Regions from separate parts of the Homo sapiens genome. Here region 2 is reported to be linked to region 1. Evidence: microRNA targets listed by miRTarBase, many of them from high-throughput screens and not tested one by one. Region 1 holds a microRNA gene; the other region holds the end of a gene's coding sequence.
The links. The annotated mature microRNA hsa-miR-7853-5p reads UCAAAUGCAGAUCCUGACUUC and lies in region 1 at 2,083-2,103, opposite strand. An mRNA with a match to its seed (bases 2 to 7 or 8) in the 3' UTR can be bound and repressed. Matches are read on the target gene's strand: a 7mer-m8 pairs with bases 2 to 8, a 7mer-A1 pairs with bases 2 to 7 and ends in A, and an 8mer does both.

Region 1 (7,000 bases):
AAAGAACAAGAGGATCCTAGCACTGGTATTTTTTTTTTTTTTTTTTTTTGAGCAGGACATTCATTCACACACACACACACATACAAGCACGCATATGCACACATGAACACTAAGTCTGCGTGCCTTTGTCTCTGTTCCAGGATGAGACGCTAAGACTGACCTTGATGATGATCTCAGGGATGGTTAGCACGGTGGACTTTTGCTTGGCCAGAACATCCCTGGTCTCATTGATGCGAGCTGTGACAAAGAAGTGCAGGGACGCTTGTTCCAGCAGCTGACCCATGTACTCGCCGGCTTGGATCAGCACCGCCTCTTTCTTGACTAGTAGGAGAAAACACACACAGGCCTGGCATCAAGACTTGAGACAGGGTCTGCTTTACTTTTCTCCAAGTTTCCCTACCCCTCCCACATTAGCCTGGAAGCCACCAGGAACACAGCAAAGGTAAGGGGCAAGTGGAACAAAGAGTCAATTGGGGATAAGCTGTCCTGCTTCTTAGGTAAAGAATGTGCTGGAAATTTAATATTCATTGAAGTCTCACTGGAGAAAATGTGTCAAACCTTCCAAACAGTTCTTTTGCTGTTGTAAAAGAAATGCCATGGAAAAGATGTGATTTTCATGGCAAAGAAGGACCAATGGGTTTTAATGGTGGCTTTGATTTGGGCCGGGATCATCCCAAAATGGAACATGTGGGGTGCTGAAGTCCAAGGCCCCCATTCCACATAGGATCCCTTGTCAAATAAGAAGTGTCTCACCTAGGCCATGGGCCACACTCAGACTAAATTGTCAACTACCTACACATTTTCTCTGTAGCATTCCACATTTTCTCTCCAATCTGATATGATTTTTCTATTTAAGAGAAGGAAGCTGTTGAAACCAGTTTCTACCAAAGGCATTCAACTATCTCCGAACCTCTGTTTGTGATTTAGAAGACCTCTGTGCCAAACAATTGTTTTCTCAATGGAAACCAGTCACTGATGTCAGATTTCTAGGTCCTGGGGACAAGCCAATGAGAATGGCATTTGGAAGATGGAGAGTGGTCCTGGCTCCCCTCCAATTACCATCTGGGCTGAGGATGGTGAGTTCTATCTTGTGGCTCTGGCTCACTTTCTCTCTAACTCCCATTTCCCACTGTCCAGGATTCTAGAGAGCAATGGGCAGTTTTTCTGTAGGCTGAGCCCAGGTGTGCACCCACTGCTACCTGGTTGGAGCCAGATGCCTGTATGTGCCGACAGCTGGCAGACTCCGCAGGTGAATGGGTGACTCATTCCTCCATCCCCAGCCACAGAGAACAGACTCTATGAACCTTCACAGAACTGAATGTCTTTACTGCTTTCCTTCTCAGTTTCTGGCTTTTGCCAAAGACTTCCCCTTCCTGTGGAAGTTATTGAAGGAAACAGCTTCATGGCCAACAGTTTGAGCACAGAGGGTAATTCATTTTAGCCTGCTGTACTGAACAGCAGTTTTGCAGCAGGGTGGGGTGCCTGTGGATGGGCATGCACCAGAGCAGAGGGCAGGGCCCCTGACTCCCCACTGGCTCGAAGGTGTGGGTGCATTGAGCCATGCCCATCATCTGTGGAGGAACTCTCACACCTGCGATGGATCTGCAGCAGCTTGCTCTGGACCTTGAAGACCAAGAGGCTGGGAAAGCCTCTGTCTTGGGCAGCACTTCTATTTGGAAGTCTCTTTACAGATGCGTAAGTGCTGTGCCTTGCTTCCAGGACTTCTGATTGAAGAGTTCTCAGTCATGGCTCTATATCACAATCACCTGGGGACCCTTAAAGACCTACCAAGCTGGCTCTCATTCCAGGCCAATTAAATCAGAGCCTTGGAGGACCTAGACATCTGTATTTTTAACAGCTCTGCAGCTGACTCTGATGTGCAGCCAGGGTTGAGAAGGGCCACTCCAACAACCAGGGGCATCCCTGTAGAATCAGCCCTGCAGACAGCCTGGGTTCCAGTGGAAGGGATGGCTTTCCAGTCCAGGTCTTTGCTGTTCCTCCTGCGGTCTGCACACCAGCAGCACCATCATCACCTGGGAGCTTGTTACAGATGCAGATTCTCTGACTTCTTACTGCACCAGTGAAGTCAGGATCTGCATTTGAATAAGACCCCAGACAATGCCTATTGAAGTGTGAGATACTCTGAGAGACAGGAGGTTCTAACAGCAGAAGGGGTAAGTTAGGGCAGAGTTAGGGTGGACTGAGAACTACCTGGGTTTTAAATTGAAAGGCCTGCATCCTGAGAACCCCATCAATCCCTGGAAAACTAGAAAGGTTGGTCATCCTAGACTAGTAGTTGTCAATAGGAGGCAATGTTATCCCCAGGGGACATTTGGCAATGTCTGGAGAACTTTTTGATTGTCACAACTGGGGTGGAGGGTGGGTTACTACTGGAATCTGGTGGATAGGGGCCAAAAATGCAGTTAAACATCCTACAATGCACAGGATAGTCCCACAACAAAGTATCCAGCCCATAATGTCAATGGTGCTGAAACCAAGAAACCCCGCATAGGGCAGGTGGATTATTAGAATGTATTGGCCTATTTTGGGCAAGCGCTAAAGAGCTAGCTTTGTTGGCTTGATTCCTGGGGCAGAGCTATTCCATTTAGAGCTGACTCTTTAAAGCTATGACCTTGCCTTGACCTTGGCCCCCAGGTCCTGCCTTTTGGAATGACCCGCTCTCGTATTGCTGTCTTTGGACCTAAGCCTGGACCCTGCTTCCTCCATGGCTCCCCTTGCAATTAATTGTTTAGATGAGTGAGGTTCTGGCCCTCTATTGGTTACAGCCTCAGATGAGCACAAATGGTCAGTTTATCGTGTCTCTAGATAGAATGGATGAAGTGGCAAGGTGGAAGGCCTCGAAGAAGATGCCTTTTGCCTCTAGCTGTTTCCAGTAATAACAATAATAAAATGACTTCTTCTGACTATTTCTAGAGGACTATGTTTGACCACTGGATTTCTTTTGGCTAATGGGATATGATTTCTTTACAGAGGCTCTTGCTACCTTTATAATCTCAGTATCAGGACCCCTTTCTTCTCTGAGGTAGAACACTCCCTAAATCATAGCACTAAAGAAACCAGGCTGTGCTTCAGAGCCCAAGAGAACAGTGCTTCTGAAATAGTATGTTATGTAAGTGCTGTGTTTTGCCACTGCACAAGAAATTGTTCTAGATAAAGTTTATTAAACGTGGCAGGAGAAGGAGGAATAGGTTTTCGCTCTATGAGCGGTAGGGCTGGGATGCTGCCAATATCATTTACGGTGTCTGGGGAAAGCCAAGGGAGACACAGACTGGAGCTGCCTCATCTCTTTTCCAAAAAGCAAAGAAAACTAAATATAGCCAAGTGGAAATGATAGCACCTTTGAAGGTACGGAGAGGTTTAAGTTATTCAGATCTCCCAAGCTGATTCCAGCACACACATTCCCTTTAATCATCAATCTGGAAAGTATGCCTCCCATTCTACTTGGAAAGCTTTCTTTGCAGCAGAGGCATCTAAGAATGCTTGATCAAGGCCTGAAGTTATGTGGCTTTTTGCAATACACTGCAATTTAATTTATATTTCAATATACAATTTATTGGTCACAGTTAATACCACCTGCCTGCAGGGCAAAGGAACAAAGAGTCTCCAGTTCCCTTCAAGTTATTCAGGACAACCTGGGGCTGGCCAAGCGAATGGGAGATGTGTTCCTATGGACTCAGGCATAGGTTTGGTCAGCTGTCCCTAGGTCGATGACTGAGAGAATGATATCATTCTACTCACCCATACAAGCTCATTCTTTAATTGGATTAAAGAGGGAAGGGGAAGGAGATTATGAGACAGGACACTTGTGAGGTGGGAAAAGGGCTGGCATTTGGTTCTTTGTCTAAGGATCTGTGCTAGACTCCAGGTAATGGGAGCACAAGGAAGGGACCTGGCCCACTTGGGGCCAAGTTTACCCTGAACTGGCTCACTGTCACTGCTATTATCTGTCTACTCTATTATCTGCTTTGCCTCTCATTGCTGTGTGGGGGCTTGAACACATCGACTCATCTCTCGAGCTTCAGTTTCCCCAAATGTAAACATGTTGGAAGTTACCATTTACTAAGATTCTACCATGTGGCACACATTTCACATTCATCACTCATTTGGCTTCCTCCATACCTTCCTTCTCTCACACCACATATCCAGTCTCTCAGCCAATCAGGCGGGCTCCACCTTCAGCACATGCCCAGATCGGACTGGTTCTCGCTGCTTCCATCACTGCTATCAACCCCTTTCAGTGGAGTGATTGCAGAAGCATCCTACCAGTCTCTAACCTTCCGCCCTACTTCCTCTTTAGTCTCTTCTCAACACAGCAGCCAGTGGTCTTTTCAAAACCTAAGTTAGATTATGCCACATTTCTGCTCAAAACTCTCTAAAGGCTCCTCAGCTCACTCAAAATAAAAACCAAAGGCCTTATAAAGGCCTACAATTCTTTATATGGTCTGCACCCAGCACTGCCCCCTTGCCACCTTTGTTCCTGATTCTGGCTCCTTCCTGCTCATTGAACACATCAGACATGCTCTGGCCCCAGGGCCTTTGCACATACAGTTTCTTCTGGCTGGAATGCTCACTTCTGACCTTCACTCAGGTCTCTGTTAAATGTCACCCCATTAGAGAGGGTTTTTTTTCTGACCATCTCCACAGGTACTCCCCGTTTTCCTTAACCTGCTTTGTATTTTTCTATTACCCATATAACTATACTATAGATTCACTTGTTTGTTTGGTTCCCCCATGAGATCAGAAATTCAGTAAGAATAGGCATTGCTGTGTCTCCAGCATAAAACAGAACCTGGACTTGCAAGCACTAAATAAAGGTTAGGGGAATGAATCAAGAACCCCGGGGTGTGTGTGCTGTTTTTCCCCTTTGCAGATGAGGAGAGACAGCTCAGAGTGCTTAAGTACCTTGCTCAGGAAACACAGCTGGTAGGTGACACAGTCATCGCTTACATCCAGAATTGTCTATTTGCAAAACTCTCTGAAATCAAATGTGGCTGCCTGTTTTAAACAATCCCCATGACTGTTGTCCTCTTCAGTCCTTTACACTGACTATTCTTTTCCATGAAAATTACCTTTACTACCCTAGGAATAGGAAAAGTGCCAAAGCTTTTAGTTTCCAAAGAAAACACTATAGTGTTTTTTTTTTTTGAGATGAAGTCTTGCTCTGTCCCCCAGGCTGGAGTGCAGTGGCACGATCTTGGCTCACTGCAACCTCCACCTCCTGAGTTCAGGTGATTCTCCTGTCTTAGCCTCCCAAGTAGCTGGGATTACAGGCACCTGCCACAACGCCTGGCTAATTTTTTGTATTTTTAGTAGAGATGAGCTTTCACCATGTTGGCCAGGCTGGTCTCGAGCTCCTGACCTCAGTTGATCCACCCGCCTCAGCCTCCCAAACTGCTGGGATTACAGGCATGAGCCACCATGCCTGGCCCCACTATAGTGATTTCTTAATTGTTAGCTCCATTACTGAAGCTGGGGAGATTTGCTTCCTTCAAATTTGAGTAAGTTCCTTGGAATTAGGATTTTAAAAAATAGTTTCTCATTTTTCTGGGAATATTTTCCAAAACCTCAGTAAGGGGACCATGATCTGTGACAGCCACAAAATCCAGAGAGCTTGAGAGCAATTCAGACTTGTGGCTTGACCATCCCAGGGGAGCGTATTAGTTTTGCTTGCCTTTGCTTTGTCAAAATTATTATTTGTACACTTTTCTCTTCAGTGCCCCATGTCAGGCCAACAGAAATTGGTGCCCCAAAGTATCGAGGTCCTTTGCAACCTGCTCTAACTCATTCTCTGCCTAGAGACCAGTTTCTTCCAATGGACTTGTGTTGCCCATCGTGTGGTCAACTGTTGTGCCCACCAAATACGAACATCCTAGGAAATGTGATTTTTTGAGATTGTAATCCCCAAGGCAAGCTGTAGCACGTGGACCCTGATCTGCTTAAAATATTCTGAGTTTTTACAGTGATGAAAATGCTTGGAAGGATGTGCATGCAAGGACGAGAAAGAGGCCCCACAAGAGATGGCAGAGGCAGAAAACCTCTTCCTAGGCCCCTCCTAGATGACACAGCTTTGTTTCCAGCCTCCATTCTTTTCTTTTTTTTTTTTTTTTGAGACGGAGTATCGCTCAGTCACCCAGGCTGGAGGGCAGTGGCACGATCTCAGCTCACTGCAACCTCCGCCTCCCGGGTTCGAGCAATTCTCCTGCCTCAGCCTCCTGAGTAGCTGAGACTACAGGTGCCTGCCACCACGCCGGGCTAATTTTTGTATTTTTAGTAGAGATGGGTTTTCACCATGTTAGTCAGGCTGGTCTCGAACTCCTAACCTCAGGTGATCCGCTAACCTCAGCCTCCCAAAGTGCTGAGATTACAGGAGACAGCGTTTTAAGAAGCGGCCTATGTCAGCGCGTGTATCTTTTTGAATGGGAAAGCAAAGCACACTATTCATTCTGGACAGCCCCCAAAAGACTTTCCTAACTTGGGCGAGAGGCACCAGCAGAGGGCCTGTTTCTGAGATGGATCATTTAGATCCATGCTCCACAAACTCTCCTGTACACTCCAGTCTGCTTGGGATCTTGTCAAAACATGGATTTTGATTCAGAGGGTGTGGGGTGGGACATGAGATTCTACATTTTTTTCAAACTCCTGGGGAATGCTGATGCAGCTGGCTCATGGACCACACTTTGAGTAGCAAGAAGTTACATTTAATTCTCACAACTCATGGGGCTCTAGGCTTTGAAATTTTCAATGTTCACTTCTGTGCATGAGACGTGAGGATGAAAGTGGAGGCTTTTGGGCCGAGTGCGGTGGCTGACGCCTATAATTCCAGCACTTTGGCAGGCCGAGGTGGGTGGATCACCTGAGGTCAGGAGTTTGAGATCAGCCTGGCCAACATAGTGAAATCCCGTCTCTACTAAAAATACAAAAATTTGCCTGGCGTGGTGGCATGTGCCTGTAATCCCAGCTACTCGGGAGGCTGAGGCAG
Region 2 (16,900 bases), not on the chromosome of region 1:
GTGGGATCTCGGTTCACTGCAACCTCTGCCTACTGGGCTCAAGCAATTCTCCCACCTCAGCTTCCCAAGTAGCTGGAATTACACGAGCATGCCACCGCACTCAGCTAACTTTTAAAACTTTTTGTGAGATGAGGTCTCACTACACTGCCCAGGCTGGTCTCAAACTCCTGGACTCAAGCCATCCTCCTGCTTCAGCCTACCAAAGTAGTGAGATTACAGGTGTGAGCCACTGCCCCTGGCCTGTTCTAGCCTCTTATCTCCAGTCCCTGCCACTCCCACATCAAGACTGGGAGCTGAGGGCCACCATTCCACCTTGAAGATTATGGCATCTGAGCAGGGGCAGCAGCCAGGACAGTAGAGCTGTTGGGAGACCTAGCAGCATATGGGGGAGGTAATGAGCTAGGCCAGAGTTGAAAAGGAGATAATGGAAGGACTTTGAACCAGTCCCAAGTTCATGTTCGGGTATTTGAGTACCTACTATGGGCCAAGCAGTTAGTTGCTGGAGATATAGTAACAAAACAGATGAAAGTCCAGGTCCCATTCTAATAGTTGGGGACAGACACTAAATGCAATATGCAAACAGTAGCACATTAGCAGATGATGAGTGCAGTGGAGAAAGTAGGAAAGGAGGCTAGTATGTGTCAGGACTAGGTGATCTGAGAAGGCCTCACAGAGATGGTGACACTTGAACCAAGTCTTGAAAGAGGAGAGGGCATAAACCATGAGACTACCTGAGGCAAGAAAGTTTCAGGCAGACAGACGCCAAGAGCACAAGTTGTGAGGCACGTGCTTGCTTGGCCCATATGAAAAATAGCAAGGAGAACAGGAGAGTTGGAATGAGCGCGGTGAGGAGCAGTGGGATAGGAGGGCCAGGTCATGCAGGGTGTTATCCAGAGGGAGATGGAGAGCCTCAGAGGGTTGGAGCAGAGGAGAGACATGGTCTGATTCTGTGTTGAGAGGACTGCTGATAGTTATGTGAGAACAAACTGTCAGGAGATGGGAAATAATCCAGGTGAGAGAGATTATAATCAAGAGCTATCTGGAGAAAATTCTTGCCCATGGCCACTTTCAAACTTACCCTCCTCTATCCTTCTTTTACAGTAGCTCTGCCAGTTAACCCTTTCTTCTTCTCTCCAAGTGACGCTTCTGTCTGTTGCTTGGTATGTTTGGCTAAGCAGAGTTGTATACTTCAATAACAAGGACAAAAACACCCGTTTACAAACTGTGATAAACAGACCATTGGCTTCATGAATGGCCCTATTTGAAAAGAGATTATTCTCTCTTTGAACAGCCTTCCTCTTCGCTTCTGGGTAAACATCCTGAAGAACCCTCAGTTTGTCTTTGACATTAAGAAGACACCACATATAGACGGCTGTTTGTCAGTGATTGCCCAGGCATTCATGGATGCATTTTCTCTCACAGAGCAGCAACTAGGGAAGGTAAGGCCCAGCTTGAGTATTTCTTGTATGCAGTCTTATGAGTTTGACATACTTGTCTTTCTGATAAGCATTCAAATAATAAACAATTGGTCTAAACTACACCAGCTAAAAAGAGATAGCAAGGGCCACTGTCAATTTGCTGTTATTTAAAATCTGTCTCATTATTTTTAATCTAATTTTTTTAAAGTGAAAAACAAAATAATTAGCCCCACCCAACTGCAGAATTCTGCCTGTGAAAAACTTTATCACAAAGTATGCGTTTTGTTTCCTAGAAAAATATTCTATGGACACTGATAAACTATTAACCCAAAATATGCAACCATTGAAATTTGCCTAAATCAATTCTATTTGAATATACATAAAATGCCTATTTGAATATAACACATTGCTTATGGGACACAAAATCTTGCTCAAGATTTCTAACAATACCAGTTTGTCAGTTTCTAATCAAAGCATGAGTACTGTTTTCCTATGGTTTTCTTTGCTGATCAATAGTCCCAAGAACTCAAAGAAAGACAAAAATCAGAGCAAACTTCGAAAGAGATGTTTTGGTCTTATTTGAGCGCTCCAAAATATACTAAACTGAGCAATATCTGTGCCTAATGGATCTTTGAACACTGAGGAGGAGTTCTTGGGCAGGACTTTAAGAGTACCTGGAATGAATGGAGACTGATGTTCCACAGGTGCCTCAGACTCCCAGTCATAATCTAAACTCTTTATCAGCAGTATTTCTGCAAAACAAACCTGTTTTTACTTTTGTCTTCCCTAGCATTGCCTAGTCTCTCAAGGTAGAATCCTCAACGTTATCTTTGACTCCTCTTCCTTCCAACCTCTATCCCCAAATTATTGGTTACCACTTACTTCTGTCTCAAATGTCTGTCGCTCCCTCCTCCTTCCTTAGCCTTATCACTTAGCCTTATCCCTTCATCCCGTCCCTACTGGGATAACTGCTTCCTAATTGGTGTCCTTGCCCCTGCTGTCCACCTTTCCTTCTAAACTTTTCCTTTTCACTGTCTCTCAGGTAATCTTTCTAAAACATAAATCTGATGATGTCAGTCTGCTTCTTAAAAATTGCAACTATTTCCCATTACCTACCAGCTAAAGTCTTCACAGTGCCACATAGTGCTTCCTGATGGGCTTCAGCCCTCTTTGCTGGCCTCGTTATTTTCTTGCACGCCCCACATACCCACTGTGCTACAGCTTTTACTTTTCCCAAGTTCACACCATGAACTTGTTCTCACACCCCTTTGCTCATCTTTCCTGTCTCACAGTCCCTCTGTCTAGTAAAATCCTACCCATTCATTCATCATAAACATTTTATTCATTCGACAAATATGATTTCCTAATGAGGACCAGAAACTGTAGGAGACTCAGATCAGTCTACATATGCCTACTTTGTGAACTTTCCCCAATATATTTCCTACAGCACTTTCTTCATTTGACTAATAAAGTTCATCTTAGCATGCAGCACACTGAAAGGCACTTAAATGTTTGTTCACACTAAAAACAGTTGTTTATGAATTATGTTCTTGACACACTTCACTTAATCCTCACAAGTACCAAATAAGGTAGTTATTATTACCCTCATTTTATAGATGAGAAAATTGATGTTCTGGGAGGTTACAAGTCTTGCCTGAAACCACACAAAGTAGCAGAATTATGATTTCTGATTTGTCCAACTCTTTCTGTCAACTACTGCTGCTAATTATTTGTATCATAGTAAGCACTTCATAAATCTGTCTTTGCAACTAGATTGTAAGCTTCTCAAGGGCAGCCACTAGTCTTTATCATTGTACTCTCAATGCCTGCTCCAGTGCTTAATAATGTTTATTGAATGAATGAATGATAGCATGATTTCTGGGTTCCACTTAAATTTGACAAATGAGAAAATCTCAATAATATCTCAGTCTCTAGGCATCCTTCAGAATGATTCATCAAGCCATTGATTCAGCCTCATGGGCTGGGACATTAGCCCTATCATTAACTTACCTATCTTCCCTGAGTAGAATTTTTTAAAGTTTTGTGAAAAATAATGATTTTTAAAAATAAAATCATATTTAATTTTTAAATATCACTGTTATAATTACGTAGAATCATTCAAATTGCCAGAGAACCTCTGCAAAATCACACATCAGAGCCACCAATACTAATGACCATGTGCTTCCCTGAAGAAACTGGATGATGTCTATAATCTAATGAAATAAAAGGGACAAGCTGGAAAATCTGCCTCTGCCAATTACTTACCAGTTTCATGGTTATATAAAGGGCTCAATCAGACCTACAATCAAGTCTTTTGTAAATGCCAAATTCACTGGTGGGTGAGGATGAGAGCAAATGTTTTAATTCAGGCTTTTTACAACCATTAGTAATGAACTATGATTGAAATAAGTTCCATTGTTACAGTAACTCAAAATCATGCAAAAATAATAATTTTAGTTCTTTTATGAGAGGAAGGCAGAATATATTAGCATTTAATCTGCCTGAAAATAACAGTGACTCACCAGAACTATCTAGATAGCAGTCAGTCATTCAGTCAACAACATTTAAGGCCTACTGCATGAAGCCTTGTTAGCAAGAGGTAAAACTGGTTGGTGGTGGGGGTTCAGCTACATTGGAATATTATAAATTCCTCCATCTTTTTTTTTTTTTTTTTTTACTCTTTTGGTGATGGTTGCTTTTTTTTTTTTTTTTTCCCCAGGAAGCACCAACTAATAAGCTTCTCTATGCCAAGGATATCCCAACCTACAAAGAAGAAGTAAAATCTTATTACAAAGCAATCAGGGATTTGCCTCCATTGTCATCCTCAGAAATGGAAGAATTTTTAACTCAGGAATCTAAGGTATCATTAGAAAGCAGAAATAAGCTTATATTTGGTTACTTTACGTCATTTCAGAATCTCTCAACAAGTCTTTCTTTTAGAAACATGAAAATGAATTTAATGAAGAAGTGGCCTTGACAGAAATTTACAAATACATCGTAAAATATTTTGATGAGGTAAGATTTTAAATAACATTGTTTTTAACCTTTGAATCAGGCACAAGGATGTGGTTATAGCATTCTGTCAGTTTCAGAACAGCTCTGGCATCCCAAAAGGCCAGAAAGGGAAGCCAGGAAGCCTGTCTGAGATGGGGGATCCTGGCACTGAGCCAGACCCTGTACATGGCTGCCCCCCTTACAGTTTTATCATGCTGCCCACATTTGGACCAGCCTGAATTTACATTTGAGTTCATGGGGCCTACAGCCACCCTGACTCAAGTTAACTTTGATGAGTAAGTAGTGGCCCTATTAAATGGGGTCAGCTTATGCTTGATTGTAATTTGCTAAAAATGAAAGCTAAGCTTGTTAAATTGCCTAGATTCTGTATTCAATCGTTATATGAAATTATGACATATTTCTAACTTAAGCGACTATTTCAATAAACCATTCTCCTTTATGATTAATTCTCCTTAATCTGGGTTTTTTTCTTTGGAAATTCAAACAGACACATTCATCAGATGCTTTGTTTCCAAACAAATGTTAACTCCCCCTTCCCTGATTCCCCCCCAATCATGCTGGGACAGGCTATCCATGTCAATGGTGAGAATAGCTCACCAATTCCATTTGCTACTTGAAGATGAAGTGAAGCTCTAAGGTAGGGTAGAGGCAATGAGTTCTTAAACATGATAAGCATCCCTCGTTCCAGGGGTCAGGGGAGAGAAGGGAAGCACGAGGAGGGACTACACTGCCCAGATGGGAGGGAAGGGAAGGATCTGTCTCTGACCAGGATGTCCCTGCCTGCTGCATTTAAGGAGAAATACTTGCCTGCATGTTGGCTGCCCAGGAATGCTTGCTGTGCTTGGAATGGCTGTGACATAATGCATAAAGCAGGGCCTAGGAAGCCTGGCCCCATATTTGTAAGCAAATAGTTGGTATTTCTTGCGAGCTTCTATTTTAAGCCAAGGTATTGTTGATCCTGTGATAAGGACTTAGCAAAACAACTTGCAAAGTGAGTATGTAAATGATGGAAGAAAATGTTGGCATCTGTTTCATACAGATTTTACCACTCACAGCATCAGGTATGCAAAAAACAGAATTGTAACGCTAAAACCACAATATCTAAAATAACTGTTCTAATTGTCAACAGATTCTAAATAAACTAGAAAGAGAACGAGGGCTGGAAGAAGCTCAGAAACAACTCTTGCATGTAAAAGTCTTATTTGATGAAAAGAAGAAATGCAAGTGGATGTAAGCACTCTGGGGCCTGGCTTAATCTGGCAAAGTTCTTCAGACGACTTGGGAGCAAAATGGCTGCTTGAGCTACTCTGTGTCGTTAATTTGTTGTTTGCACATAGGTTCCACTTTGGGCACTGTCTTTTTAAGAGACCAAGGCACATGCACAGCTTTTAGAAAGCATACCAACCCTTGTGCCTGTGTGTATACCGTGGGAACCCTTCTGTAAATAGAGTTGAAGTGGTTGTTGCAAACAGCCTCCTTGTTTACAGAGAATACAAGGCCAGTAAGCGAATGTCAGTATTGTAACTACAGTCTCCACTTAAGCACAATGATATAAGTGGTTTTGTTTGAAAACTACAGCTATGTAGCACTTGTGCTACACTGCACCTCTGCATTGTAAAGGGATACTGCCAGTGCTCAAAACAAAATGTGAAATGAGTCATTTGGAAACAAGGTGGGGGTGTTAGGGCAACCTCGAGGATTTGCAGCATTGAAACTTTCCCCAGTAGTTCTTGGAAAAGCTGACCGCAGAATTTGGTAGTGTACACTTAGCATTTGTGAGTGTGTGTGTGTGTTTAAACCAAAAACTAACAGTGTTGCAACATTGTTGAAAGGGCTCGTGTTTTTCAGTGGTCATCAACTGCACTCCATCAAACTCACCTCCATTTCACCAAGGAGCTCTAAAGTAAGGAGAGTGGGCTTTATTTAAATGAACAGCATTTTAACCAGATACTTTGTCCTAATGTATGTTCCTTTTCTTCATCTGTTTTTTCATACTAAATGTATTTGATAGTGGACATGTTGGATATTATACAAAAAAATCATTAATTCATTTCTGTTCCAAAACCTTTGATCAGAACGATCTGTGGAAGAGTAACTCCATTTCTATATGAGTGAGTGTCTCCTTGCTTTAGATTTCTGGTGAACCCTGTGGTTATGAATACTTGTGTGTGATTTAAAAAAAAAAAGATACATTTTACATTTTATCGAATTGCTGTTCACACTGGAGTATTATATATAAATATATATATTTGAGGCCCAAGGCCTGAAAAATATTAGTATACAACTTGGTATCTTAGTCTTACTATGTACTTTTTGAAAGTATTCCTCGCAGGAGAAAGAATTTAAAATACCCATTTTATTCATGCCTTTCTTTTTAAAGAATTCTCTATCCAGTTATACTGTAGTCTTTTTAGTGCTGATTTTTTAATTCCTGAATTTTTGCTGCTCATGACCAGTTTTAATACCACTGTGTTTTCCTTCTATTAAACCAGAAGAAGTAAACAGCATAATTGGCAACTCTTGAGCTTTTCTTGTGGCAGGCACCTTTTACCCTTGGTGCTCCAAATCCCCCATCTAGGAAAGAAAATTTTTTCAAGTCAAATAACATTGATCACATATTCCTTGAAATCATTTACCAACACTGTATGGAGCATTAGGATTTAAATATGAATTTGTCTTAAAGGCAATTCCTTTTTGCTTCTGTATTATCTGGAAAAGCATGAGAGAGGTGACACCTCAACAAACTGATCAGAGAAAATAAGCAGTTACTACCCTGATAGGCACCTTCCCAATCCTGTTGCTTTTGACCATTGTCTGTCCAACGGACACACCTCAAACAAACAAAACTACCAAATAGATGACAGATCAGAATAAAGGTGAGAGGTCTGGTCCCCATTGAAGGCTGCTACAGTCTTCAAAGAGGTGAAGGAGTTCATAAGAGAACAACAGTAGGAAAGTTGAGAGCCAAGGGTAGGAGAGTTGCCCAAAAGACTTCCCCTACTACTTTAGGGTACTGAAAACTCAAAGGATCAGCTACAGCTTTATCTAAGTATTTACTAAATGCTACATGAGGGTGTCCCTGTCCAGCTTTCTGGCACATGAGTCCTGTGTGGAGAGTTACCTCCTCTTCCAGGGACTGTGCTGTTGGGAACTTTGGGCAAGTCACTTACCTCTTTGTGCCTCAATTTCTGTATAATATTTCTAAGCTACCTCACTGAGGTGGTATGAAGATTCACTAATGTATGTAGCGTGTTTGTCAATCCTCCAGTGAAAAGCACTATCTAGATCACATTTTGGATCACATTAGCCAAATGCAGTAAATGGCCAAATTAGATGTGTGCTGAAGACAATCAGTCACTGGGTCTATATTAAACAGCAACCAGAGCAACAAATGGCAAACAATTTCTATTTTCAAGTTTCTTTGCATATTTTTTTGGTGCAAAACCATTTATAAACTTTTTTTTCTAACACTAGTGTCTACAGCAGCATTCAAAAAAATTCTGTTACCTTTTCTGTATTAGGATTTAAAGTCTATTTCTTATTGTATACCTGATTGAAGCTGTTCTTGGAGATGAATGTTTTAAATGTCTATATCCAAAAAATAAACATTTTGATGTAACTGTGGACTGTCTTTTTTTTTTTTCAATTTTCTAGTTATAATAGTTTTTTTATTCTAAGTGGCTCCGTGGAAATTATTTTTCAGAGATAAGGTGTCACTGTATATGCTGTGAATAAGCAGCTATATTATGTAGTAAGTAAACCTAGTTTGCTAAATGGTGCTAAGGACTGCTCAATTACAGTCCTGGCCTTCTTCACTATCAACTGGGACTTTTGACTATGAACACCTTGGGATAATGAACATTCCACTTAATTTGGGAGACTTGAGCTTTAGCCTCGTTAACATGAAATTATTCCAGCAGAATTCCTCTAAAAGATGTCACATTAAAAAGGCTTCCAATGGGTGTAGACCAAAAAAAATGAGAGCATACTTAGGGACACAAAACACATAATTATTTGGTTAGATCCACAGTAATGGGAAGTAAAGTTAAATACCAACAATGTTTATAAAAGGACCTGAGTTCAAGTTTTATAATCAATGGCCCCCTTGTTAATACAGCCATAGGATTTAATTATTTGCACTTATTCTCTATTCTAACAAAGCCAAAATCAGTAGACTGTCATATTGCTAAATATATGCTATATGGTTGATGTAAAATTAAACACACGATTAAAAAAAAATTAAGCTCTTTAATTATGTGCACACAGATTTTAGAAAAGGTAGCCTTTTGTATATAGATACCTTTACATTCTTTAGGCTGACTTTTAAATTGTCATCTTTTTTCAACTACAGTTTTTGTATATAGTAAACCAGAAGATGTGTATGGACCCTGTTATGGCCAAGCATCTCAAAGATGAAGAGAGAATTAATGATAGTTATATTTCACTCAAAATGCCAAAAAAAAAAATTCAACAAAGTAAAAATTTTAAAACTTGACTCTAACTAGTTCCTTTTTGTTTTACATTCTCAAACCATTGTCAAATATTCTAAATATCTCTGAGAATTTCTCTTTTAATGCTTCACTTGTATAATCTTAAAATCCTGACAGTCATACAATACAGCATGTAGTAGGTACCTTTTCTTGAGGCACATTCAAGTGTTTTGGCAAACAGTAAAAAGTATCTAAATGCCACAGGTTAAAATGTCAAGTTTTACTGAGTCACCAACTTCACCTCTTTTGATCTGCCTGTTCTCCAAGAACATCATTCTCCGGAAGATCCAAGTTCCTCTAGTTGTTTTCTTTGTGTTGTTTCCAGTTCTTCTAGTCTTTTGCGAAGTAGAGAGAGTTCCCTTTGATGTTGTTCCTCCTTAAAATGATGTAGAGAAAGCATAGCAAAAGAAACTATTAGAAAAACTGTTAGGTAGCAACCTTGGACTGCCTCTTTTATATATGCCTATAACATCTGGCAAGGAAATGCTGACCACTGTAGCAGTCTAAAAACAGTAGCATGGGCTAAACTACCATCTAGTTTTGCTTCTCTCCTGCCTCAGGCTCTAGCCTTAAGCAAAACCCGTAGTCTGTTCTTCTCTAGGTATAAAATTCACCAGGGAGTGAATTAGAAAATACTAATGCAGGGCCCAGGTATACTTACATGGTAACTTTCCAACAACACTGGTGTTTAACAGCAGTTTATTATAAACAAAGCACTTGGCCTGAGATTCAATTCAGTGATTAAAATCTTCTGTGCTTATGTTATAAAACATAATTACTTATTAATACTCCCATCTTCTGAAAAAGAATCAATCTGATTCCTTCAATACCTCAGGGGCTTGATACAATAGAAAGAGCCCGGGTTTTGGATTCAACAGGTTTAGGTTTGAAACTTTGTCACTTATTAGCTATGACCTTATGCAAGTCACTTCACTCTGAATCAGTTTCCTTATCTATGAATTAGGAATAGTAATATCTGCCCTCAAAGCATTTTTCGTTAGTATTAGACATTGCACGGAACATGCACAGTTCACTGCGTTAGTAAATTCTCAGTAGTAATTACTATTAACATTATGAATAAGCTACAAACTCTAGGTTACTCAATGACTCAATCAAGTTTCCTCTTTTCTATCGTCCAGTAAGAGATTTCACTCTCAGCACCAACACTAAAGGATCATGATTCAAACTGAATTCAGCAAATTTCTATGCTAAATGAAAGGGAAGAAGTTAAAAGTAGTTTTAAATGTTTATGCCATTTTTGTGGTGAATTTTGAGCACTGACCAAAGTTATAATTTGAGTTTTATCACCATATTTAAACATAAAAACCTACAAAAATGTACGACTTTTTTTTTCCCCCTAAAATAAATGCTCATACCTGCATATGAGGAGGAAATGGTAGTTCCATGCTTGGAACCATGGCTGATGACTGAAAGCTAACAGGATTGATAGATGCTGTTGGAGGCATGTTAGGAACCAAAATTAGACTTCGAAATTCATTATGTCTTCTCTGTATATCTTTTAGTCTTTTTTGAAGCCTTGTATAGTCTTCAAAAGGAACATTTTGTCTTAAAAAGAAAAAGAAATGTTTCTTTAACATGGTTATACCCTATTGAAGCACAGTATGATTCACAGAATATAATTTTAAACTGGAATTTCTAAATTATGAGATCTATATATAATATATAGATAAAAAATCTGTTTACCTAGAAAGATAAACAGAAACATGACATAACATCTTAATCATTAGCAATCATTAGCATTGCAGACTATCAACTCATTATAAAGTTTTATTTGCTAATTAAAGATCTAAAATCTTTTGATACTTTGGTACTCACTCCTACCCTCCTACTCACCCCCATTCATGAATCCTGAAACTAAAGGGAGACTCTAAACCAAAAGAGTGCCTTATCTTACAGAAAGAATCAAATAAAAATACAGTTCATCCCTCAGTATACACATGGGATTAGTTCCAGGACATCCCTCATATATCAAAGCCTGTGCATACAAGTCCTGCAGTCAGCCCTGCAGAACCCTCATAATGGAAAAGTTGGTTCTCTGAACTGGTGGGTTTCACATCCTGTGAATACTATATTTTCTATCCATGTTTGCCCGAATAAAAATCTGTATATAAGTAGACCCATGCAGTTCAAGCCCATGTTGTCAAGGGTCAAGTGTAAAGAAAATGCTGGATTGAAGCTTACAAAATTGCCATTTTTAAATAGGTGAAATATGGTCAAATATAGAGATTTTCATAGTTCAATCTAATTTTCAAAATGTCAGTGTAATATTTTAGTAAGAAATATATATTTGGTCTTTGCCCTTGGTTCCTGGCACACAGCTCCTAAAACTCTGGGAAACTCTGAAGTGATAAGAGTATCTTTTGTATATTAATAAGATAACTGGTGGCTGGGGGCCCCTGAATAGCTTCAGGATGGGGCAGGTCACCAGAAAGACTGAGGCATGATTAGAGGGTTGGAACTTTCAGCCCCACTCTCCAACCCCACCCCATGACATCTGGGAAGGTAAAGGACTAAAGGTTGAGTTGATCACCAATGGCCAATGATGTAATCAATCATGCCTATGTAATGAAGCCTCCATAAAAACCCAAAAGCATGGGGTCAGAGAGCTTCTGGGTTGCTGAACATGTGCAGGTGTCTGCAGGGAGGCATGCCCAGAGAGGGCATGGAAACTCCACACCCCCTTCCTCATAACTTTTCCTATGTATCTCTTTCATCTGACTGCTCATCTATATATTTTGTAATATCCTTTCTAGTAAGCTGGTTAACATAAGTTTCCCTGAGTTCTGTAAGCTGCTCTAGCAAATTAACTGAACATGATGAGCAGGTCATGGGAACCCCAATTTATGGCCATTTTTAGCCAGTCAGAAGCACGGGTTACAACTTGGGGCTTATGGCTGCATTCTGAAGTGGGGGGCAGTCTTGTGGGACTGAGCCCTCTACCTGTGGGATCTGATGCTAAATCCAGGTAGACAGGATCAGACCTGAATTACAGGACACCTAGCTCGTGTCCACTGGAAAACTGATTACTCCATGTATAGGAAAAAACCCCAAACATCTGGTGTCAGAAATGTTGTGTTGACTGTGTGAGAATAGGAAAAACACTGGTTTTTCCTATTATAAAAGGTAATCACAAAGGTGAAGCTACACAACTTTAGGAAAAAATGACATGGAGAAAAAGGCTAACTTTCCAGGCCTTCACAGATCATCATCTTTTTGGACACGACATCCAGTAATCAAATATAATTTCAAAATCACTCAAAATTCTAGATGATCTGCACCACAACTGGCCAATCTTGAATTGCTAACATTTCAATATTAATGTTTATGGAAGAGGAAGTAAGTTGAATTCTGTTTTAGAAGGACTGAGCCAGGAATGGTGGCTCATGCTTGTAATCCCAGTGCTTTGGGAGGCTGAGGCAGGAGAATAGATTAAGCCTAGGGGTTCGAGGCTACAGTTAGCTATGATCGTGCCACTGCACTCCACCCTGAACCATAGACGAAGACCCCATGTTTAAAAAAAAAAAGAATTGAAACAAAATTCAAAATTACAAGCATGTTTGTAATTTACAAATTACTACCAAATTAATAAACTAAAGGCGGCCTCCTACTTTGGAATAGAGTATTGTAAGGCTGGCACTAATTCTACAGTCTAGAAACTTCTAGAATGTTCTTTAAAAAACAATTGTTCACCTGTTGGTAATAATTGCACCCAAGAACACCAGTGCACATCATAAAACGTCACTGCATGATATTATAGGCAGTTTCCATTACAGAAAAATCTATACTTGAATAGCCAAGGCGCTGAAGGCTACCACTAATTCACTAAATTAAAAAGATTTTTCTTAACTTGAATCAAATGTGTCATATAATGCCACTACCAACAACTTAATATGACAAATCTCTGCTTTAAAAATGCTGATGATCCTGATTATCAGATGTGCTTGAATGTGACTGCAAAACCCGAAACTACAGCTCAATAAAATCTCCACACCAGGAAACCAAAACTGACCTTTGATTCAAAGTTGTAGGCACAATTTTCAGAACTATGCAATAGCTACAACTGTCTTGTACAGCAGCAACAACTAACACCACTCCTTGCTACCAAAGCCAGTGACATTTTCTGTTAGTCCCAATCATAAGGCAAACACCTGGTATGTGACAGAGACCTTTTGGTTTAAAGAAACATTCAGTTAGGGGGTAAAAAAAGGATAGTACATTAGGAGTTATCAAGCTGTTTTAGAAATCTTTAAAATGTATATTTTAAAAGAAAAGAAGGTACGTTATACTTAGAGACAAAGTTCTATGACATCAAAATAACCACATGGGGAAGATACACATACAAACACATTACCTATTTAAGACCTGATTTTCTGTTTCCAATTCTTCTTTCTTTGCCTCCAAGACTTCTACTTTCTCTTGTAGTCTTTTCAATTTGTTTTCATGAAGAGATTTTCTCTAAAAAGAGAAATATGAACAAGTATGTTAATACATAATCTCTTATTTGAACAAAACTATATAGAAAATATTTTACTCACCAAAAACTGTGTTTAGATATGAATGTTTTCAGTGAATACTAGAAACAAAGGTTAGTAGACATGGCTCTTACTGAAAATTGCAAAGATAATAAACCACAAATCTATCTAATATTCTCAATGTGACAATTAATTATGAATGCCAAACAAAAAAACTGTTATCAATAATTGCTGCAAAAAAAAAATCTACAAAGGGAAGGAGTCAAATTTTACTACTGAGTCTGCCTGTACATCTGGTAAGAAATAATGAGCTCTCCATTGTTCCAGAAGATAGCATGTGTTTAAGAGAACTGAGCCAGGTACAGTGGCTCATGCCTGTAATCCCAGTGCTTTGGGAGGCTGAGGCAGGAGGATGGATTAAGCCTAGGAGTTCAAGGCTACAGTTAGCTATGACTGTGCCACTCCACCCTGGACAACAGATCAAGAACCCATTAAAAAAAAAAAAAAAAAAAAAGGGTGGGGAGCCAGGCACAGTGGCTCACGCCTATAATCCCAGCACTTTGGGAGGCCGAGGCGGACAGATCACAAGGTCAAGAGATTGAGACCATCCTGACCAACATGGTAAAACCCCATCTCTACTAAAAATATAAAAATTAGCTGGGCGTGGTGGCGGGTGCCTGTAGTTCCAGCTACTCAGGAGGCTGAGGCAGGAGAATCACTTGAACCTGGGAGGCGGAGGTTGCAGTGAGCCGAGATTGCACCACTGCACTCCAGCCTGGCAAAAAAGCAAGACTCTGTCTCAAAAAAGGAAAAGAAAAGAACTGAAGTAAAATTCAAAATTACAAGCACGTTTGTAAGTTATAAAGTACTACCAAATTAATAAAACTGAAGGATCAGAAAGCTAAGATAAATATGGATGCATCTGTTTAAAAGTTGCCTTTCTAAATCTTAAAAGGAAAAAATTTAAACTTTACAATATACAAAGGGAGAAATTCCTAAGTAAATCTTGTATGGTTTCATTAAACAATACGGAAAAGTCCAGGTAAAATGCAAAAGGAGTGTATGGAAAAAAGTAGTATTTTTTTTCAGTTTTTATACACAGGCCTTTTGTTTTTTAATAGAAAAACACCTAAAATGTTAAAACTCATTTAGTCGCTACAAACCTTTTAGGTATTTTCTAACTCTTTTTTAACTGAAGTATAATCTTACAGCAAAATGCATAGAATAGAAACGTAAAGCTCAAAGAAAAACCACAAAACAAATGCTGGCATGATTTCCTTGTAGGTCAAGAGCACTGCCATGCCAGAAGGGCCCCTACCTTTCCCCCTTCCAATCACTAGCCCTGTCATCCTCTGAAAGGGTAACCAACTAATTTACTTCCAAAACTATAGTTTACTTTTGCCTATTTTTGAACCTCATATACATACAATCATAGTATGTAGTCTTTTATTAATGACTTTATTTCACTCAACATTGTTAGTGAGATTTATGTTACTTACAGATATACTTCATTCATTCCCACATATTATATTCCACTTACGATTATTGCATAACCTAGTATATTCACTCAGTACACCGTTAAGGGTTATCTGCATTATTTCCAGTTGGGACTATTACAAATAACTCTGCTACGAGCATTCATTCTCATGCTTTGATTGTCCCACATCCTCCAACATCTCAGAAGGCTTCCTTATGCTCCTGTCTACCCTGGCAAAGGAACCACTCTTCTGGTTTTTATCACCATAAGTATTTATTTATGAATTTATAGGCAGTTAAGGAGTCCATCTGTCTATCCATCCACCCATTCATATGAAAGAAATCATAAATTTATGCTCTTTTGTATCTGGACTTTTTTCTCAACATTTTATCTATATGACTAAGCCATGGTTATGTATTGTCACAGTACTTCTTTTTCATTGCAATGTTGTCATTCATTGTACAAATATACCACATTTTATACATTTTCCTGTTAATGAAAATTTAAATTCTTTCCAGTCTGGGGATATCATAAATATTTTACGAACATTCCTAAACATGTTTTTCGCAGATTAAGTACCTCATTCTCTTCAGTATATACCTATGAATGGGTCATAGTGTATACATGTTTTAGCTTTAGTAGATACTGCCAGTTTTCTAAAGCAGTTTTACCAATTACATTTCCACCAGCAATATGTGAGAGTTCTAGCTGTTCTACATTTTTGCCAGTACTTGGTATGGTCGGTCTTTTAGCTTTTGCATCCTGTTTTGGTGAAATACAGTATCTCACTGTAGTTTTAATTTACATTTTCCTGATAGCTAAAGGTATTGAGCATCTTTTTTTATGCATGTTAGTCATCTGGATATCCCTTCTTTGTGACGTGTCCATCCTAGTCTTTTGTCCATTAAAACTTTTGAGTAACCTGATTCCTACTGATTTGTAGTTCTTTATATATTCAAGATATGAATCGTATGTCAGATATATATGTATTGCAGATTGACCTTCTCCAGCCTGTGGTGTCATTTTCTTTTGCTTAAGAGTATCCCTTAATAAAAAGATTTTAATTTAAATAAAATCAATTACATCAATCATGTATTTTATAGTAGGAACTTTTTGCATCCTGCTTATCTTTATTATCCCAAGATCCTAAAATTTTCTCCCAAGTTTTCATCTAGAAGCTTTATTTTTTTTTTTTACCTATCACACTTAGGTGTATGGTTCATTTTTATCTATGTTGTGAGGTTAGGCTGAGTTTAATCTATTGACTCACTACTATTTGAAGGAACATCCTTTATCGAAATGCAGTGGTACCTTTAGTGTAAACCTATTTCTGGACTCTATACTGTTCCATTTGCCTGTTTATCCTTATGCCAATACCACACTGAATTACTGTAGCTTATATTTAGTGTTGATACCTGGTAGTTTTAAGTCCTCTAGTTTTATTGTTCTTCAAGATTGCTTTGGGTATTCTAGTCCTTTGTACTTTCAGATGAATTTTAGAATCTACTTTCTAATTTCTACAAAGAAACCTGCTGAGATTTTGATTAGAACTGCATTCAACTTATGGATAAATTTGGGAAGAACTGACACCTTAATATTGAATCTTCCAAGTCATGAACATGGTACAGTTTTCCCTTTAGGCATTTTTCCATTTTTCTTAGCAGTATTTGTATTTCAGTGTAGAAGTCATAAACATCTTTCACTAGATTTGTTCCTAGGTATTTTAGGTATTTTTATGCTATTGTAAATGGCATTTAAATATTTTCTAATTGTGTGTGTAAAGAAAAATAACTAGTATTTGTTACTTGACTTCGTACTTAGAAATTTTAAAAATTCATATTAATTTTAATAGTTTGATAGGTTTGACTTTTATGCATGCACAGTGACATCTGTGAATAATTTTAAATTCCTGTCTACTCTTTATGTCCATTTCTTTATTCTTAAAACTTTTTTTAGGCTCAGAGGTACATGTGCAGGTTTGTTTTATAGGTAAATAGATTATTTCAT

Region 2: miRTarBase lists PLXNC1 as a target of hsa-miR-7853-5p. Seed matches in the 3' UTR shown: 7mer-m8 at 6,203-6,209.

The regions. Positions count from the first base shown.
Region 1 is chr6:6,167,298-6,174,297 of GRCh38, forward strand. It overlaps MIR7853 (microRNA 7853), which reads right to left and starts at 2,138; the gene lies at 2,007-2,138. F13A1 (coagulation factor XIII A chain) reads right to left here. Exons shown (of 15, transcript NM_000129.4): 13 at 161-321. MIR5683 (microRNA 5683) reads left to right here and starts at 2,037; the gene lies at 2,037-2,112. RefSeq lists an enhancer at 1,688-2,353.
Region 2 is chr12:94,299,619-94,316,518 of GRCh38, forward strand. It overlaps PLXNC1 (plexin C1), which reads left to right. Exons shown (of 31, transcript NM_005761.3): 28 at 1,292-1,439; 29 at 4,138-4,278; 30 at 4,359-4,433; 31 at 5,563-8,057. The coding sequence ends at 5,667. It overlaps CEP83 (centrosomal protein 83), which reads right to left. Exons shown (of 17, transcript NM_016122.3): 15 at 13,296-13,399; 16 at 10,300-10,489; 17 at 8,080-9,299. The coding sequence ends at 9,195. Among named protein-coding and RNA genes, the nearest start is that of PLXNC1-AS1, 130 kb to the left of the region's middle. RefSeq lists an enhancer at 4,716-5,595 and a silencer at 6,210-6,309.